2 linked regions of the Homo sapiens genome follow. The protein of the gene in region 1 purifies or fractionates together with the protein of each later gene. This does not show direct contact. Each region holds a gene or a part of one and is shown on either strand. Other genes may lie near its edges.

Region 1 (3,756 bases):
CGCACACACACAAAACAGTTTGTGGCACTTAAGAATATAAGAGATAACTCATTACCTTAGAAAGCTCTAGTTAACTGTTCTCATCTCAAGTTTTGGGAAGACAAGGCTCATACAGATTATATGACTGTCTCATGGTCATGGGAAATTAGGAGAGATCTGAGGATAAATTTCATGCCTCCCATGGCTCATCCCAGTGCTTATTCAACTACAGTGCATGTCGTGCCTATAACCTCACCTAGTTGCTCACATCAATTTCCACTGCAGGTTCCAAGCTGGCTTACTTCATCCAGTGGAAGAAAGGAAATAATGCTAAATACAGAATTGTGTTTCAGGTACAGAGTAATAGATAAATTAGAAATAGGACAAAGTTGAACTCCAAAGGATTTTAGGGTAATAACACCTTTGATTCTGGCAAAATAAATTAATAAAGATAATTATAACAGCAATGATAACATATTTATTCTGAAGACATAAGATGTCAAGCACTGTATTAAGCTTGATAAATATTCATTTAATCTTCAGGGCCACCAAATGAGAATAAAGGCTAATATTATTGCTGTTTAGAGAATAGGAAGCTGAAGTTGAGAGAGTTTAAAGAATGTGCTAGAATTCACACAACTGTATGTGATATAGCTAGGATTCATACCCATGCCTGACCACAGAGTCATATTGGATATGTCTTCTTACTGTGTGAGACTGTTAGGTTGGTCAATTAGGTTGTTATTGGAGCCTACACTAGGACCATGTTACATTTAGGTAGGTTGAATCAGGCCCAGACTGGATTACACTCAAACAGCACACAGGTTTAGGGCTATAAACAGTCCTTTATCTTCCTTGCAATGTAATGTATCCAAGTTGCTGGGAATCCCATATATAATTAACTTAGTATTTACTAGAACGCTTAGTTCAAGAAAGCTTTTTATTTAAAATGTTAGAAGAGCTTATATCCAACTCTCAACTTATAAACTATTACATAACCTCAGGCTTCAGGAGAAGAATTATTGCACTATGTGTGGAATTCTTTCCTTACCATTAGCCGAATCACGTTTCACTGCTTCTGTAACAATCAAACCTATGAGAAGATTTGATATTCAAAATTTAGAGCAAAAATGGTCATTTATATTCTACACACTGCATTACTCCCATAGAGTCTGCAGCACAAGATTACTCACTATTGCTCTCAAGAAAAAAAAAAAATCAAGAATTCACAGCCAGACTACTTAACAACTAGGCAAACAAGTTATATCATCTAGCATGACAGATGGTGAAATTATGAGGCGATCCAACCTATGTTTCTGCATTTACCTCATCAAAGCAAAGGGCAGCTGCCCTGGCTTAAGCGGGGATGAGCTGGGGGTACAAAGGGATGTAGCACTAGTTTCAAGCCCTGGTCACTTCCAGGAGATGTTCTTGATTTTCCTGATAAAGCAACATACCACATATATTATTTTTAGTCTTATAAGTACATTTTAAAACTGACATTAGAAAGCTAGCCTATTCAAAAGAGGAGTACCACGATGGTGAAAGGCACAGTTAAATGAAAAGATTTGTGCATGGTTTGTTTAAGTAGAAGACTGGATTTTTTCATTATGTAGCACTTGAGGGCAATGCACAGACCCATGGATAAAAGTCTGGAAGTCACAAAAAAGGCACACTATTGGCAAAATACAAGGCAAAACCCAACCAACCATTAAAATGATAGCTAGAACTGACTCTTCTGACTAGAAAGAAAGAAAAGAGAAAGCAAGAAAGGAGGGAAGGAAAAGGAAATACACAGCCTCCAATTTTTAAGAAATAGAGGGATGAGGAATATGCCAAAATCTACACCATAGTAGGCAGTAGGCTCTGGGAACCTCTACAGTACAAACAACCCAGTTACTTCAAATAAGTTCCTGGGAACAAGAACAAGAAAATCTGGAGAACAGATGAAAAGAAATGTAAAAAGTTAGCAACCCATCACAATGTATGGAATGGTTGGATCATGATTCAAACAAACAACCTTAAAAAATTCTGATGAAACAAGTGAAAATTTAATATACTCTGGATGTTAGATAACCTTAATGAATAATTATATTTTTAGTGGGATAACCGTATTGTGGTTGTCTTTTAAAATTACTTATTATTTGGAGATACACATTCAAATATTTATGAAGGAGGTGATGTGATATTTGAAATTTGCTTCTAAATAATATGCCCAAGAAGAAAGTAGTTGGGGTGTGGGTGGGGTAGGATTGGCCATTAGTTGATTATGTTGAGGCTGATAATGGGTACATTAAGTTTCATTATAATATTGTCTACTTTTGGGATTATTTAAGCTTCTTCACAATAAAGAGTTAAGAAAAAAAACAGAGTTGATGTTGTTAGTAGAGTAAATCTTTTAATAAGAATTTAATTTTCATAACATATATGGGTCAGTGAATTCTCTGGTCACCAAATTTATTCGTAAGTGCAAATTACTCTCTAAATTGAACAGTGTCTGTTGTTACTGAAATGAAAACCAAATATGCTCATATTAAGCAGAGTAGTCTGGAAATATACTTATGTTTGTAAAAGCAGACAAGGAAGTAATCATTTTTAATATCTATTATAATATGGGAATCTGGAGGTTAGTTTCATATTATTGGTAACATTAATTAGAGACATTAATTAGAAATAGTTTGTTTTTGAGATAGGTCATGGGAAAACCTGAGAACAATTTGAAAGCCTAAGAAGTCAACATGATGCAAGAAAAAATAGTTCTAAAAAGTGCTATGGCTTGGAACATTGCATTTATTGACAGGGTATTAAGTATGAAGCTTTTGTATGACTATCTCTTTGAAATATCACAAAAACTGTGAAAGGCAGGTATCACATAAACCTGATTAGTCTGACTCTGAAACTTCTTGTTATTCTTTACTGCTCAAGTTCACTTTAGGAAAATAGAAAAAAAAAAAAAAGCAGATTGTGAAAACCAGGAGAGTATAGTTCACTGAAAATCAGAGAGAAAATATAGTGCAGAGCTGGGAGAAAGAAGCATTAAGAAAAGAGAGTGTGATAGAGTAGTAAGTGCATGGAGTTTTACTTAAGTCAGAAATTGGGGTTCAGGCACTATCTCCACTACTCAACCACTCTTGGTCTGGGGAGGATGGGGCCTCAAAAGAAGGGTCATGAACTTGGTTAATTAAAAATAATATGGCCAGAGGAATTTTTAAAAATTTTACAAGATCATGCTATTTGGCAAATTAAGTTTATGTTTTTTAAATTGTTCAAATCATCCATGATACAAAATTTGCAGTGACAATGAGCAGAAAATATAGCTGTGTAGTGTCAGCCCTTGTTAGGTTCCGTTAAGAAGCTTTTTCTTGTAGTTTTTATTATTATTTGTAATAGGAACTATTTTTCTCCCCACCCCATAAGCACATAGTATCCATGAAAATGTTCCGTTTATGAGCTTAAATGTTTCTTATTTTTTTTCCTATTTATTTTTGGTTATCATTATGACTGTAATTTAAAATTCATGCTACTTTTACAATGCAAAAATGAATTGAGGCTATTCAGTTATTATACTAAAGGCTTAGGAATCCATAGAGACTTAAGGCCTCCAATACTGTTGGCATTAATTTTTAATCAGTTAACAATATTTAATATGAGAGAAACATAAAACAGTGCAACTAAGCAATTTTAAAATCATCTACATTGACCTTTGTGTTGAATATATCAATTTGAAAAGAAAATGGTTAAGATTTTCCAGTAAAGCTTTTGGTTTTATAGTTATGC
Region 2 (3,756 bases), on another chromosome or scaffold:
GAAATAGAGTAGAAGATGTAAATCTTCGAAATACTTCGAAATACTTCAAAACAATCCACAGGACTTAGATATACAAAACTCCCACAGTGGGAGTCAGAAACAGCACTAAAAAATGGAATGTCAGGTAGTATTAACAGAAGGTGGAATTAACAGAAATGTGAACATTGGGAAGGGAGGCCATATTTTTAGGAAATGAAGATGACTTGATTTTCGGATGCTGTGATTTTGAGGTAATGAGCTATCAAAGGTGAAAACATGTTTTCTTCAAGATGGTTTTATTTTTACAAATAATTTTTTTAGATAAATGTATTTAAGGCATTTCTAAAAGTAGTATGTGGTTAATAGTGCTACAAATGTATTTATTACAGCAGCACTCAAGAGTGTGGCAGGGTCAGCTATGTAAGGTGTATAGCTTAAGGTGTTTATAGGTAAAATGTTGCTTGTTTTGTAAGTTATATTTTCATACACAGTGTTTCTTGTTTTGTGTTCAGCTATTATATTTTAATATGTGACTGTGTGTCAGACTGCCGTTCTTAGAAGTTATGCTTTAAAAAAAGTTCTCTTTCCTATGAGTGTTTTTTCACAATAAGAAACACCTTTTACAAATTAACTCATACTCAATTAAGTATACCTATACATGAATCTTTGAGTGTATGTATAAACTGAAACCAAAGTTGCATTTACAAAGGATTCTAATGAGTATTGCTTCCATTCTGTTCATTTTGTTTCATTCTCCCCCACTGCCCCCCCACCCCCAACAGATGCTGGAAGAAATCCACTGAACCGATTTTATACCCTATTAATGGATTGTAATACACAGTTTGAAAAATACGTCTTCTGGAGCTCTGTGTGCATTAAAATAAATTAACCCTTTCCTTTTTCAAATCAGGTTGCCTTTTCTTTTAGAATAGCTGTTCCCAACAGCCTGCAGCCAATCTGACTAGATACTTTTATGGGACCATGAATAATTTAAAATTTATTATCCTGTAATTATCAACCTTTTAAAAGAATATGCTGGTTTATGTAAATGAATCTGTAAGTGGTATTTCCGAATATATAAAAAAATGAAGTGGAAAAGATACAGGATTGGAGGAAGTAGTTTTGGACTAAAGAAATCATAATTAAGTAGCAGGCATATTTTTCCATCTTTCAGAGGCCACCTCACTGCAGTGACATCTCATGCAAGTTGTCATGGAAGGAATAAACAGAACAATCATAGCGACTCTCTTAACCTTTGACCTTTAGCTCATCTCACAGGATTGCACAGTAGTTAATAAAATGTACAAGCAAGCAGTGAGAAGCTTACTTACATAGTATGTAATAAAATGACCTTGGCTTTGAGGAGCGAGCTTTTTGCAGGAAGGTGAAAGGGTAAAATGAAAGTTTTAAGCCACCTTTGAGGAAAGAGTGAGGGAAGAGCCTTTATTTCTTGTGAGAGGCTGAAACAGTTACCAGATTTTTTTAAAAAATAAAAGTAACTAGAATTTTTGTAGGGCTTCACATTTTATAAAATGCTTTACACGAATTTTCTAGTGTTTGGTGTCCTAAACTCAAGGGCCAAGCAGATGAAAATACATGTAGTTGGGTGAAAGACAATAGTGGTGCCTGTGAAGAACTGGTAAGTGTATACCCTTATCTAAGGGTAATCAAAATCAACTTAAAAACAAAAATATCCAAACTATTGTACGAACCAAGCAACTTTATATATATTTTATGTAATCTTAACTGCTCATCCCTGAGCTAAAGGTAATATTATCTCTATTCATTGGTATTGGAAACTAAGTACAGATTCGGTAAGTTATGTAAGGTCATGTAAAAGATGGAGTTTAGATTCAAACCAAGTGTATCAAGTCCATGTTCTTTCCAGTATACTATACGTCCTCTATGACTGGTGATATGGTTTGGCTCTGTGTCCCCACCCAAATCTCATCTTGTAGCACCCATAATTCCCATGTGTTGAGGAGGAGACCCACTGTGAGATGATTGAATCATGGGGACAGGTCTTTCCCATGCTGTTCTCATTATAGTGAATGGGTCTCACAAGATCTCATGGTTTTAGAAACAGGAGTTTCTCTACACAAGCTCTCTTTCTTTGCCTGCTGCCATCCACGTAGGATATGACTTTTTCCTTCTTGTCTTCTGCCATCATTGTGAGGCCTCCCCAGCCACGTGGAACTGCAAGTCCAGTTAAACCTCTTTCTTTTGTAAATTGCCCAGTCTCGGGTACGTCTTTATCAGCAGTGGGAAAACGGACTAATACAACCAGTTTCTTTTCTTTGAACTGTTTACTCCTTTCCAGTTTATCTTCTGGGGCTTTTTGTTTTGGTTTCAAATTTATTTATTTTTAAAATTGACATATAAAATTTAAAATTCTAGTGGTTTCTTTTTTTTTGCACCAGAATGATTTTCCTGTCAGACAGCCATGATTGTGTTGCTTTTCTTTTGCTCAGCATTTTTAAGTTGTTCTTCTGTACCTTTAAAAACAAACTTTAAAGTTCTCTAGTATGAAATAAAAGTCTTCCAAGAAACTCACTCTTCTTACTTCTTATACACTCATTTCCTGATCCTAGTGTGTTTATTTAATTCCCAGCTACCAGTAGTTCTTTCTGTATAGGATAACTTACTTTGTTATATGCCTGTTGAACTCCTTTTTCAACCTTTAAGAGACAGGGGTCTTGCTCTGTTGCTCAGACTGGAGTGCAGTGGTGCAATCACAGGTCACTGCAGCATCAACCTCCAGGCTCAAGTGATCCTCTCACGTCAGTCTCCTGAGTAGCTGGGACCACAGGCGGGTGCCACCATGCTGCCTTTTTTTTTTTTTTTTGAGACAAAGTCTTGCTTTGTCACTCAAGCTGGAGTGCAGTGGCACGATCTCGGCTCACGCAATCTCTGCCTCCTGGGTTCAAGCGATTCTCCTGCCTCAGCCTCCTGAGTAGCTGGGATTACAGGTGTGTGCCACCATAGTTGGCTAATTTTTGTATATTTAGTAGAGACAAGGTTTCGCCACGTTGGCCAGGCTGGTCTTGAACTCCTGGATCAAGTGATTGTCCTACCTTGGGCTCCCAAAGTCCTGGCATTACTGATGTAAGCCACCGTGCCTGGCCCATTCATCACTTCTAAAGATAGTCATAATACCAGTTGTAATGCTGTTTCAGTCTTCTAAAGGATCTGTTGCCCTTGTTCAATTAATTTTCTACTTTATCAAATTTGAGATACCACAGACTTCTACATGATTGTGAGTTTATTTTCCTTACCTAAAAAGCTGATTTTGTCTTGTCAGGTTTTTGACATCTATCGGATGTGTATGTGTGTGTCTGGGTACATATACACTTAAATGTCATGTTATTTTTTTCAGAAATGAGAGATAAAATGAGAAAATGGAGAGAAGAAAACTCAAGAAATAGTGAGCAAATTGTGGAAGTTGGAGAAGAATTAATTAATGAATATGCTTCTAAGCTGGGAGATGATAGTAAGTTCTTTTATTACATTCAGGCTCAGTACATGCCTCATTCATGGGCCTTTTTTTTTTTTTAACTGTTCTTTCATTCATGATTTTTCTACTTGTCATATTAATTTTCTTTGTGACTTTTTGTCCCAAGAATTTTAATGATAGTTTATTTTGAGAAGGATTTATAATTGCTTGGTAGTAGTAAGCTATCAAATAGGCATTTTGTTTTAAAGCTCACAGGGCTGCCAAATGTCTGGCCAAAATGTATTGTGTATGGACTCTTTTAGAACAGTAAAACTATTAAATAA

The links.
Region 2: the proteins of TRDN (region 1) and EMC2 purify together in Homo sapiens (co-immunoprecipitation; 3 studies listed by BioGRID and IntAct, with this or other methods). This does not show direct contact.

The regions. Positions count from the first base shown.
Region 1 is NC_000006.12:123,630,297-123,634,052, reverse strand, and holds part of TRDN (triadin), read left to right. Parts: intron 1-3,756. UniProt on the Homo sapiens protein: Contributes to the regulation of lumenal Ca2+ release via the sarcoplasmic reticulum calcium release channels RYR1 and RYR2, a key step in triggering skeletal and heart muscle contraction.
Region 2 is NC_000008.11:108,446,468-108,450,223, forward strand, and holds part of EMC2 (ER membrane protein complex subunit 2), read left to right. Parts: intron 1-3,355; coding exon 3,356-3,469; intron 3,470-3,756. UniProt on the Homo sapiens protein: Part of the endoplasmic reticulum membrane protein complex (EMC) that enables the energy-independent insertion into endoplasmic reticulum membranes of newly synthesized membrane proteins.